Linked DNA regions of Homo sapiens. The protein of the gene in region 1 purifies or fractionates together with the protein of each later gene. This does not show direct contact. Each region holds a gene or a part of one and is shown on either strand. Other genes may lie near its edges.

Region 1 (3,500 bases):
AACAAATCCTTGACCTATTTTACGTAACAGGTTTAAGTGTAAGATTTTCAGTTGAAAAAGGGGTTCTGGGGCTAGTAAAAGTTTGAAAACTATGTTTAAAATACAAGCTCCCAGCCAGGCGCAGTGGCTCATGCCTGTAATCCCAGCACTTTGGGAGGCTGAGGTGGGCAGATCACAAGGTCAGGAATTCAAGACCAGCCTGGCCAATATGGTGAAATCCCATCTGTACTAAAAAACACAAAAATTAGCCAGGCATGGTGGTGGGCACCTGTAGTCCCAGCTACTCGGGAGGCTGAGGCAGGAGAATCGCTTGAACCCGGGAGGTGGAGGTCCCGGGAGGTGGAGGTTGCAGTGAGCCGAGTTTACACCACTGCACTCTAGCCTAGGAGACAGAGTGAGACTCTGTCTCCAAAAAAAAAAAAAAAAAAAAGGGGGGGCTCCCCTCTGTTACAAGAATTCACATTCCATTGATGACAAAAGCCTCACTATCAGTCACTTTCCTCATAAGGGCCAATGGCAGAATTTTATTTACTCATTAAAGTAATCTTTTCCTCTAACTCCAGATTCTGCCTCAAATTCCTTTCTAATGTGGTACTTCCAGATGAAAACAACTTGCCCTATAATATCTTTGCTAAATATTAGGCATTTGCATTCACTTAACTAAAACAGTATGTAAAATACATTAATAAGAAGCTGAAAACTGTTTAAGGAATTACATTAATAAAGGGATGTAAAGCTAGGTATAATTTTAAAAGTTATCCCTTTAAGTGATAACCTCTGACAAAAAAACTAGAGCTGAACACCTAATAAAAAAGAAAAATAGGTAAATCATTTGGATCTCATACTCTAGTCTTTTTAAAAACGCCGGAGGACTGCTTATGCCCAGGAGGTTGTGGCTGCAGTGAGCTTTGATTACACCATCACACTCCAGCCTGGGCGACAGTGCAAGACTCTGTCTCGGAAAAAAAAGTTTCTAGTTAAATATTCTAAAATAAGATAAACATTATCTCATTAGAAAATAAAAACAAACAAAAACTAAAAAATCTATCTCATTAGCAGGAGATGTTTCACCTTAACAGAAATCATAAGAGTTAAAAGCCTACTTTGTCTTAGGACCATATCTATTAAAAATAGAACATTCTTAAGCTATTATGTAAAAACCAGTATGAATCCACGGGTGTTCCACATTTCAAACTTACATATTCTATTATGAATAAATGAAAATACACTGAACATACTTTCTGCTTTTCAGGAACATCCTCAAGTGCTATTTTTCTCTTATTTTGAGTGCCATCTCCAGTAGAAGATTTATCTTTTGGAACATCCTCAGTTTCTCTTTTTCTTTTCTTTGAATTGCCTTCAGCATCACCACAATCTTTTTCCTCTGGGACAATTTCAGGATCAAGTTTTCTCTTCTTGGATGGAGTGTCTTTCCCACAACTAGAACTTTCCTTTACAAGATCATCTTCAAACTCTTTTCTCTTTCTTGCTATGTCTACTTGCCTACAGACAGAAGTCTTTTCAGAAAGCCCAGTCCCAGAAGCTGTTGTGTTTTCATTAATATTGAATGAAGACTCTGTTTCAGAATTCACTGACGCTTTTGCCTGTTCAAGAGACATCTTTTCATATTCTTCTGCTTTTGCAGAATTTGCCATTTATGATTACTTGAATTGATGGTAAAACTTCATGAACCAACACTAGAATAGGAAAAAAATTGGTATTACTTGTAAACACTAAGACTTTAAAACAATTTTTTTTTTTTTTGAGACGGAGTTTCACTCTTGTCGCCCAGGCTGGAGTGCAATGGCATGATCTCGGCTCACTGCAAGCTCCGCCTCTGGGGTTCAAGTGATTCTCCCGCCTCAGCCTCCCCAGTAGCTGGGATTACAGGCACCTGCCACCACGCCTGGCTAATTTTTTGTATGTTTAGCTGAGACGCGATTTCCCCACGTTGGGCAGGCTGGTCTCTAACTCCTGACCCCAGGTGATCCGCCTGCCTTGGCCTCCCAAAGTGCTGGGATTACAGGCGTAAGCCACTGCGCCTGGCCTAAAATAATTTTAACTAGAATTTGATCAACTAGGAGTTTAAAAAAATCTCATTGTAGAGAGCATATTAAAAAATGTTAACTGATACTATGTATGAATTTCTGAATATGGCAGTACTAATTATAATCCCCCCAAAATTCTATAATCTTATTCATAAAAGTCACTGTTGGCATTAAAGCTGACAAATGAAGTGGCGATACACATGCACTAGTTCCATTTTGGTTCTGATCCTTACTCTATAACCCTGGTTCCCAAACTGCATGGTTGGCACCATAACAAACAGGCACCACAGAACCTAATGTGGAAGATATCACAGAAACTACCAGCTTTAAGTACAGCACAGTTCCAGCTGAATAGATTACACTACATACCTTTCAATGACTTTGTGAAGCTGAGATTTTGGTATCACAGAAAATCAAGGTGAAACAGGAAATGAGGTTGGTGGTGCCTATCTGATTTCGAGGCTTGAAGTTGTACAGTACCCAATAGGTTCACACATCCTGTTAGTAAGGGATTGTGATTAATCAAGAATAAAACAGAAACATTACCTTTCCCCCCAATTTATGTGTGTTAATTTTTTAAACAGACATAAAGTTGTTAGACCATAAATACTTTTAAATTCTTTGGGGTAAACTACTTAATAAATGGAACTGTTATATTTCTTTTGGCCTATGGACACTAAGGGCATCAAGAACAGAAAAAGTTTGGGATTCTACAGCAAGAATTCTGAAATCGTATTTCATAATGGGTGTTCCAATTAGGTAGAAAGTGAAGAGAGTAGAAATGGCTTTAGACAAGTTTCAGGACTCAGCCTGCAGTTTGATGACCATTAAGTCTCTTTCAAATATGTTTTTAGACCTACATTAAGATGGGAAAGCGAGAGAAATAACTGAACTATCTATTGGGCAAGAATTATGGTGGTTCATTTATTAAGCCATTCAACAAATTTAGTGACCTCCTACTATGGAGAAGCTCAATGTAAATCATGTTTTCAAGATGTTTATAGCTTATATACCACTATTAAAATGTTAAGCTTTCGCTGGGCACAGTGGCTCACACCTGTAATCCCACCACTTTGGGGGAACGAGGTGGGCAGACTGCTTGAGCTCTGGAGTTCGAGACCAGGTTGGGCAACATGGCAAAATCCCGTCTCTACAAAAAATAGCTGGGCATGGTGGCACATGCCTTAGTCCCAGTTACTCAGCAGGCTGAAGTAGGAGGATCACCTGAGCCCAGGAGGTCCAGGCTGCAGTGAGCCATGATTGTGCCACTGTACTCCAGCCTAGACAACAAAGTGAGACCCCACTTAAAAAAAAAAAGCTTTTTCATGAAGGAAGTGTTTGTGCTTAAAAAAAAAAGTAAATAAATAAAAAGCCTTTTGGATAATGAAAAAGAATAAGAAATCAAGTTGCTTAAAGGAATGGGTAACAAGTCACTCACTATGAATGGGTAAG
Region 2 (3,425 bases), on another chromosome or scaffold:
TGTTGAGATCTCCCATGTGACAGAAGCCTGACATCTGGGCCACCAAGGCTCACTGACTGTGTACCTTGCAGACTGTAGACCCATGTCGTGGCGGTAACGGGGCCGAACACAGTCATTCCCATGTGAACGATGGAGGCACATCCCACTTTATTATTAATCCTTGTATATACTCAGTCAGGACAGATTTTAACTTGTCGCTGTCATGACTTTTTTTTTTTTTTTTTGAGGCAAGGTCTCGCTCTGTTGCCCATTCTGGAGTGCAGTGGTGTGATCTCGGCTCACTGCAACCTCTTGCCTCCCAGGTTCAAGCAATTTTCGTGCCTCAGCCTCCCGAGTAGCTGGGACTACTGGTACATGCCACCAGGCCTGGCCAAGTTTTGTAGTTTTAATAGAGATGGGGTTTCACCATGTTGGCCAGGCTGGTCTCAAACTCCTAGCCTCAAGTGTTCTGCCCACCTCAGCCTTCCAAAGTGCTGGGATTCTGGGTGTGAGCCACTGTCATGCCTGGCCTCGTCATGACTCTTTTCTCTTTTTTTTTTTTTTTTTTTTTGAGATTTAGTTTTGCTCTTTTTGCCCAGGCCGGAGTGCAATGGCACGATCTTGGCTCACTCCAACCTCCGCCTCCTGGGTTCAAGTGATTCTCCTGCCTCAGCCTCCCGAGTAGCTGGGATTACAGGTGCCCACCACCACATCCAGCTAATTTTTTTGTATTTTTAGTAGAGACGGGGTTTCACCATGTTGGCCAGGCTGGTCTCGAACTCCTGACCTTGGGTAATCCACCTGCCTTGGCCTCCCAAGGTGCTGGGATTACAGGCATGAGCCACCGTGCCCAGCCTATCATGACTCAACTGGGATCTGGCACACTGCACTGGGTGTTTTGTTCTCTGATGTGCACATTGATGAATGCATATTGGTACAAGGGAAATGAATCTGTTTTCAGCCATTTAAAAAATTGTGTTGTAAAGCAAACAAAAATAGCTTGAACATTTAAAAATTACTGTTTAATATTGTTTGACTGATTTTCTAAGAATTATGTGAACAATGATGAGTCCAGGGCAGCAGCCATCACAAATATGACAGTCCAGCAAGGCCCATGGAGGTCCCTTTGGAAGGGACTTGCACAGCTGATTTTCTTTTTCCAGTGTTGTTTTTACGGGTGAAACGTGGCTTTTGAAATACTTTAGTTGTTTGGCTTAGAGCTCCCACTTTCCCCCTAACATAGTGCCTGTCTGTTTTTTAAAACATTTTACCCTTCGGCACTATTTTCTGCTATTCCCATTAATATTATGTAACATAAACCACTTGCTACTGATTTGGGCATATTACAGACTACAATTACTAGTTGCTTTGAATGCATTGGCACTCTTAATTATTGCAAAGGAGAATTGAAAAGTAGTCTTGTGGTCCTAGTTAATTTAGCTTTGGGCAAACTAAGTGGCTTTTCTTCTGTCCTCTTCTCAAAAGGCCTTTTAAGCAGCAGAGACTGGGCTAAATACTGGAACTGAATTCCACTTTTCTGCCTGCTCATTTGCTGCCAAAGACCACTTGGGGCTCCTTGTCTAGAATGCTCTAAGACGAAATTTGGCCAGACACAGGGTTCCTTGATTGTTCTGTTCAACTAATAGAGAACCTACATTTTGCCTTCTTAATATCGACTTTCTTTTGTACCAGGTTTTTCTTTCTTTCTTTTTTGCCTTAGGAGCTTAGCTCAAAGTTCAGCTAACCTTTGACACTACTAGTGTCATTTAGTAACAGTAATCTTTGACACTACTAGTGTCATTTAGGAGCTTAGCTCAAAGTTCAGCTAACCTTTGACACTGCTAGTGCGTTCAAGAAAGGGTAGGGAATGAAGTACCCTTAATGCAGGGTCAGCAAACTTTTCCTGTAAAAGGCCAGATAGGAAGTATTTTTGGCTTTTTGGGCTGTTTGCTTTTGCTACTACTACTGTGGGAATGACCATGGTCATGGCTGTGTTCCAGCACAACTTGATTTACCAAGACAAGCTGTGGGCTGTATTTGGTCCTCAGGCTGTGGCTTGCTAGCCCCTGCTCTAATGGATTGTGTTGGCGGCAATGGCAAGATTCCCTTGCTGAGAACATGCAGATGAATAACCTTATAGCTGGGATGCAGAGAGGAGAAAGTTCTGTAGGTAATAAGTGCACTGTATTCCCTCTGAGCTACTTCCTGGGCATAGTTACATGTATGGCCAGTGTGTGTACTTGAGCCATCAGGCTCAGACACTTGTTGAATATACCTCTCATTGCATTAGTTTGTAATTGTGCTAGTGCTGGGTGCTGAGCTCAGCTGCCCGGATGACCTTTCCAGACTGAAGGACATACTCCCCTAACAGCTGGGAGTGCTGCTGGCTGGCCATTTACTTCCAGCCCTTATGAGGAGTTTCCCCTGCTGAAGAGCCCTGCCTGCCCCAGATCATACCCCCTTCCTGCCTGTAACCCTTACCGGCTCCATATGGGGTACAAAGGGCTGGCCTCCTCACCCCAACTTGGGAAACCCTCTGGGGCCATCCCAGCTCCAGAGCCCCTTGTGGGGTCAGTGAGACCTCATTGTGGCCACATTACAGCCCAGTGCCTCTCCCTGACAAGCCTGTACCCAGCCGGCTCAGCCCACAGCACTGTCCTATGAACCTTCCTGCACGCCATTCTCCACCTCAGTATCTGCTTTCGGGGAACCCAACCTGCGACAGTGCTTCTGTGTGTTTTCAGTCCTGCAGGTTTGAACTCTGACTTTGGAGACTTTTCCAGTTATCTCGTGGAATGACAGATTGTGCCTGTATGATATCAGGCACAATTAATGCAAATTAGGCAGACCTATTTATTCTAGATGTGAATTTGCTATTTATTTTAAATGTTGATTTTATGTGTTATGTGACTCTGAACTTATTGCCAAATAAAAGTTTGAATTGTATCATCTGGTTTATTGTCAGTCACCTATTTTGTGTGCTTAAGTCTGCCACGTTAAATTCTGATGAATCCACAGTATCGTTTTCTAAAAAGGCATTTTTTTCCAGGACTTGAGGTTATTTCTACAAAAATAGATAAAGGAGATCTTGGATTAAAAAAAATTCTAAGGGACTTCAAAAAGTTTATCCCTGAGAGAAGGGATAACCTTTTTTGGGGAAAGCTCAAAGGTTTCTTCTCACTACCCCCATCTCCCCCCACCCACAGCAAGCACACCCACTTGTTTTCAGAGCTTGAAGACTGTCATTCCTCCCATGGATATCTTTTTTTTCCTCCCTTCGATCACCTGCCTTTGTGTACCTGTGATGGTGGGTGTTGGTGGACTCACTAGCAAATCTGTCCCATATTGATTTTTTGGGGGCGATTTTCTGGAAACTTGGCATGTCATCTAAGAGGAAATGACAGCCTGCTCCTCTGCCTGAAATATGGGCTGCTTCTCTTTCCTGG
Region 3 (3,328 bases), on another chromosome or scaffold:
GGTGTAAATCCCAGGCCTGGAAGCTCCTACCCAACCCTCATTTGTTTCAACTCACTTTCAATATGTGCATAGTTTCATAAAGCAGACATTTCCATGAGGAAAAGAGGATGGTGGTGAAAGGGGAGGGGTGAAGGGACATCTCCAAGTCACAGAGGCTGCAAAACTCAGCATGACTTGTGGACGGAGCCACAGGCCACCCAGGGCAACAACACCCACATAACTCACCAAGTGGTTAACGGCTCTAAACCAGGGTCAACAGGAGAGGGGACAAAAGTCACTCCTTGATTTTGCTGCAGCTTAAAGATAAGTTCTACCTCAGCTTATGCTAGCCCTTATGGGGCAAAAAAGGGAAAGTCATTCTCCCCAAGTCCAGGCTGGGCCGTCAAACAGGGAGTGGGGTGTCAGCCCCAGACCTCAATGAGGTCCCCAGATTCCATGCCCAGGTCAGCTGGCAGCTCCCTGCCTGAAAGCTTTGTCCCATCAAAGAAGAAGGAGAGCTTCCGTCCCGACAGTCCCATGGCCTCCTCATAGTGGGACATGAGGGTCTTTAGAGGGGAATCCTGGATGGAGACAAAAGAAAATGGACGTCAGAACATGAAAGGGGGCGGGGATCCCGTAGGGATAGACGAGGAACTTGGGACAGGGAGGATGGCGGCAGGGGCGGAAACAATAAAGTCAGGGCCCCATGCGGGGAAAGGAGAGAGGACAAAGAAGCCAGCCCAGCCAGGCTCCTCTCTGGGAGCTGGGACGAATCCTGTCATCCCTCTGGGCTCCAAGTTGCTCAGGTAGAGGACGGGGGCCACGAGCCCAAGGCTTAGGGGTATAGGCTCTAAGTCAGGCAAGTCCTCCTAGCCTCAGCCTCCTTCCCTATGAAACAGAAGTGTGTACCAATGACTAAGAGAGCCCAGATTCTAGAGTGAGGATGAGTCGAGCTGGAGGCCAGGCTCTCCCACCTATTAGATATGTGACCTTAGAAAAATGTTACAGGTTATGTTCCCCAGAGAAGACACCTTGTGGTCTTAACCCCTGTTAAGTGTGAATGTGATGTGATTTGGAGACGGGGCCTTTGCAGATGCAATCAAGTTGAGGTTGTACTGGATTGGGACGAGTGCTAATGCCGTGGGACTGGTAGACAACTCACTGCAACCTCTGCCTCCTGGGTTCAAGCAATTCTCCTGCCTCAGCCTCCTGAGTAGCTGCAACTACAGGCACAGGCCACCACACCCAGCTAAGTTTTTGTATTTTTGGTAGAGACAGTTTCTCTGTTGCCCAAGCTGGTCTCAAACTTCCTGAGTTCAGATAAGCCACCCACTTTGGCCTCCCAAAGTGCTGGGATGACAGGCGTGAGCCCCCGCACCCAGCCTGGGACTGGTATGCTTATGGAACAGACACAGAAACAGACATGAGGGGAGAACACACGTGATGACAGAGGCAGAATGGAGTGCACCTGCAAGCCAAGAATGCCAAGGACTGTGGGCCGCCAGCAGGAGCCAGGAGGAGACAGGGCAGATTCCATGAAGAGACCCTGAGGGACTGCGTGATGTTGTCAAATATATATTTGGTCTTTGTATGTTTCCTGGTATAAAATTCCTAAAATCCCTGGGAAAGAGTTAAGTATCTTTTTGCATGCTAATGAGTTGACTGGTGGCTGGCAGCCCCTAGAGAGCTTCAGGAATGGTGCTGGTCACTAGAAAGACCAAGGTAGGATAAGACAGTTGGGACTTTTTCCCCACCCCTCAACCTCCAAGAAGGAGGGAGAGAGTGAAGGTTGAGTCACCACCAATAGCCCATGGTTTAATCAGTCATGCCTATATAACAAAGCTTCCATAAAAATCCAGAGGACAGGGTTTGGAGAACTTCCCAATAGTTGAACATGTGGTGATTCCTGGAGAATGGTGCCCAGGGAAGCTATGGAAGCTCTGCGCCCTTTTCCCATGCTGTGCCCTACACATCTCTTCATCTGTATCCTTTGTAACATCCTTTATAATAAACCAGTAAATGAAAGTAAGTGTCTCCCTGAGTTCTGTAAGCTGCTCTAGCAAATTAAACCCAAGGAGGGGGCGAGGTGCAGTGGCTCATGCCTGTAATCCCAACACTCTGGGAGGCAGAGGTGGGAGGATCAGTTGAGCCCAGGAGTTTGAGTCCAGCCTGGGCAACATAGTGAGACCCCGTCTACACAAAAAAAATTAAAAAATTAGCCAAGGGTAGTGGCACACACCTGTAGTCCCAACTACTCAGGAGGCTGAGGTAGAAGGATCGCTTGAGCCCAGGAGTTTGAGGCTGTGGTAAGCCAAGATCGCACCACTGCACTCCAGCCTGGGCAACAGAGCAAGACCCTGTCTTTTTTTTTTTTTTTTTTTTTTTTGAGACGAAGTCTAGCTCTGTCGCCCAGGCTGGAGTGCAGTGGCTTGATCTTGGCTCACTGCAACCTCCGCCTCCCAGGTTCAAGCGATTCTTCTGCCTCAGCCTCCTGAGTAGCTGGGACTATAGGCGCATGCCACCATGCCCGGCTAATTTTTTGTATTTTTAGTAGAGACAGGGTTTCACCATGTTGATCAGACTGGTCTTGAACTCCTGACCTCGTGATCCGCCCACCTCAGCCTCCCAAAGTGCTGGGATTACAGGCGTGAGCCACCACGTCTGGCCCTGTCTCTTTTTTGTTTTTTTCAAAAGAAAAGAAAAAAATCCTGAGTTTGTTTTCTTCCCCCATATCTTCAGAGACACTTGCTCTGCTAACACCTTGATTTCAGACTTCTACCCTCCAGAACAATGAGAGAATAAATTTATGTTGTTTTAAGCCACCCAACTTGTGGTACTTTGTTACAACAGCCAAAATACAAAAGTGGGGTGCTGCTGGAATAAATGGTTAAATGTAACAGTGGCTTTGAAATTGGATCAGGGCTGGAATAATTTTTTTTTTTTTTTTTTTTTTTTTTTTTCAGATAGGGTCTTGCTGTCTCCCAGGCTGGAGTGCAGTGGCCCAATCTCAGCTCACTGCAGCCTCAATCTCCTAGGCACAAGCGATCCTCACACCTCAGCCTCCTGGGTAGCTGGAACTATAGGCCTGCGCCAGCATGCTGGGCTAATTTTTGTATTTTTTGTAGAGGCAGGGTTTCACTATGTTGCCCGGGCTGGTCTTGAACTCCTGAGCTCAAGCAATCTGTCCATGTTGGCCTCTCAAAGTGTTAGGATTACAGATGTGAGGCACTGTGCCTGGCCAAAGCTGCAAGAATTTTGAGGTGTATGTTAGGAAAAACCTAGACTGCCTTGAAGAGACTGCTGGTAGAAATATGGACATTAAAGGGAATGTCCCTGCAGGCTCACAAAG
Region 4 (2,296 bases), on another chromosome or scaffold:
CTGGGATAGTTTAGACTAAACATGGGTGTGGTTAGAGTACAGTAATTACTGTGAAAAAAGCAAGGTTCCTGGACATTTAAATTTTTTTCTTTTTTTTGAAACATGGTCTCACCCTGTTGCTGAGGCTGGAGTTCAGTGGTGTGATCATGACTCATTGCAGCCTCAATCTTCCAGGCTGAAGTGATCCTTCTTTCTCAGCCTCCTGAGTAGCTGGGACTACAACCACACACCACCATTCTTAGCTAATCTTTTTAATTTTTAGTAGAAATCAGGTCTCACCATGTTGCCCAGGGTGGTCTTTAACTCCTGAGCTCAGGCAATCCTCCCACATCGGCCTCCCAAAGTGCTGGAATTAGAGGCATGAGCCACTGCACCTGACCCTGACATTTCGATTTTTAAAAATTTTGTTGAAAAACGTCACACACACACACACACACACACACACACACACCTGCTTCAAAGAGGATTTTTAAAAACAATGGTGGCTCGGCTAGAAAAGATACTAATTTTCAACCTTTATTTCAAAGTTTATTTATAAAGGAAATACAAATTTTGATAAACAAAGCACCCAATTCCTACTTATTTTTTTTCTTCGTGGAAAAAAAAGTATGTGACACATACTTGTCATGCCCTGTATTGATTAAGCTTACAAAAGATATTGACAGAAACTATACAAATCTAGAATTTAGAGTGCTAGGAATGTTGCCATAAGGTATGTGTACCTACATTAATACTAAATAAATTCCACCTACATCCTTTCTTTCACCCTTTCCCAGTATCATTTCAGCTTTCCTCACAGTCTCACTGTCCCAGAAGTCTAGGGGCAATGACTCTCCATCACTAGTGCTGTGGTGGCACCTGTGCTCCCACATCCTGATATCCTACCCCTACGGCAATCCTTTGAGAAGCACCTGAAAACACCAGTGACCTAGCTTTATTAGATTCCTCGAAGGGAAGGTACCTGGCATGCAGCCTCAGCTCCTACCAAGGAGAGGAGAGGTTGAAGACTCTCCCAGTCTCCATTCACTCCTTTGCTTTGATACCCGTTAGGCCTGCTTTGCCTCCTTAATAGACTCCTGGAATGGGAAGGGGTGGGGGTGGGGAGCGACTGGAGAACTCTTTTCCTAGGATGACTGGAGCCAGGAAGTCAGTCTGGAAACTTCCCCACCCCCTGGTGGTGCACAGCACACAAGATGGCCTGTGTTCCGCTCAGGGGTGGGACTTTCAATTTACAGCCTAGGTGAAGGGAGATGAGTTGGGGCAACAGCGATTCTGTTCATTGGAACAGACTGGGTGGTAACTGCAGGCCACTGCAGTTGACCTGTTGGCATTCGAGGTCTGACGACCTTCAGGTAAATGCTCTTATGATCAGTGGACCAAAGGAGCAACGGTGGAGGGTGAGGAACAGCACACTTTACCAATGAAAGTCGTGACCAGGCCACGTTAGTTTAGTGGTAAAAATAATAACATTAAAGAAAATGTTTACAACAGGAATAGAAAATGACAGAACCCTACTGCTTTAACTCAAGTGTATCACGATCTCTGCCTTCATCCACTTGAGACTTAAAACTCAGTGTCTGCTATTTTTACTTAACATTATCCCAAGCAATAGTAACATGAAAGTTATGACCAGGAGGGAAGCAGGGTCGCACCTGTGCAGGGTCCTTGTCTGCGGACCACCCCTCCTACAAGCTTCTGGGTAATAGAGGTAAGGGGGCTCCTGTGGTGGGTGCCAGTGCTGGGACCTTAACTTGTGTATCTGGGCTATAGCCCTGGACTTGGCTAGGCTGGGCTGTGTGAAAATTCCAAGAATTCTGTTGGTAGAAAATGCCCACCCTGTCCTTACAGGAACAGCACAAGGCTAGGCTTGTCTACCTCCCACCAGGACCTCGAAGGAACATGACCCAGGGGCTGAAGGATGGTGTTGAAGGACCGAGTTTTACTCAGATCCTTCTCAGCCCTGCCTTCCTGAAGTTTCTGTATCCACTACACTGGAAGCTTTCTGAAAAAAATGCCTGGAACCTGTCCATTGTTACCCCAGCCCAGGGCCCAGCCAAAGAACTTAACAAATAACCGCCAAGGAAATCCTCACCTAAAATGGCTGCGATGCATTACTGCCCCCGCCTCTGGCTTACAGTATCACTTCTGCATCTGAAACCAGGAGGGGGCAGTCTGGGTCCACGACGAGACATTTCCTTCTAGAGAAAATCACACCTGCAAAGACCCTCTCCAGAGCCACCGCCCACCTCCGCGCAGCCATCCATTCCCTGCGAAGATGCTTTGGGCTGAAAATGGT

The links. Proteins that work in one complex are often made in the same cells at the same time.
Region 2: the proteins of RNMT (region 1) and NT5DC3 fractionate together in Homo sapiens (co-fractionation; one large-scale study listed by BioGRID). This does not show direct contact.
Region 3: the proteins of RNMT (region 1) and NFATC2IP fractionate together in Homo sapiens (co-fractionation; one large-scale study listed by BioGRID). This does not show direct contact.
Region 4: the proteins of RNMT (region 1) and HEXA fractionate together in Homo sapiens (co-fractionation; one large-scale study listed by BioGRID). This does not show direct contact.

What each region holds. Positions count from the first base shown.
Region 1 is NC_000018.10:13,729,673-13,733,172, reverse strand, and holds part of RNMT (mRNA cap guanine-N(7) methyltransferase), read right to left. Parts: intron 2,547-3,500; 5' UTR 2,418-2,546; intron 1,698-2,417; 5' UTR 1,656-1,697; coding exon 1,239-1,655; intron 1-1,238. UniProt on the Homo sapiens protein: Catalytic subunit of the mRNA-capping methyltransferase RNMT:RAMAC complex that methylates the N7 position of the added guanosine to the 5'-cap structure of mRNAs. Binds RNA containing 5'-terminal GpppC.
Region 2 is NC_000012.12:103,771,810-103,775,234, reverse strand, and holds the end of NT5DC3 (5'-nucleotidase domain-containing protein 3), read left to right. Parts: 3' UTR 1-2,925; downstream 2,926-3,425.
Region 3 is NC_000016.10:28,960,937-28,964,264, reverse strand, and holds part of NFATC2IP (NFATC2-interacting protein), read right to left. Parts: intron 561-3,328; coding exon 402-560; 3' UTR 1-401. UniProt on the Homo sapiens protein: In T-helper 2 (Th2) cells, regulates the magnitude of NFAT-driven transcription of a specific subset of cytokine genes, including IL3, IL4, IL5 and IL13, but not IL2.
Region 4 is NC_000015.10:72,340,424-72,342,719, forward strand, and holds the end of HEXA (beta-hexosaminidase subunit alpha isoform 2 preproprotein), read right to left. Parts: 3' UTR 501-2,296; downstream 1-500. UniProt on the Homo sapiens protein: Hydrolyzes the non-reducing end N-acetyl-D-hexosamine and/or sulfated N-acetyl-D-hexosamine of glycoconjugates, such as the oligosaccharide moieties from proteins and neutral glycolipids, or from certain mucopolysaccharides.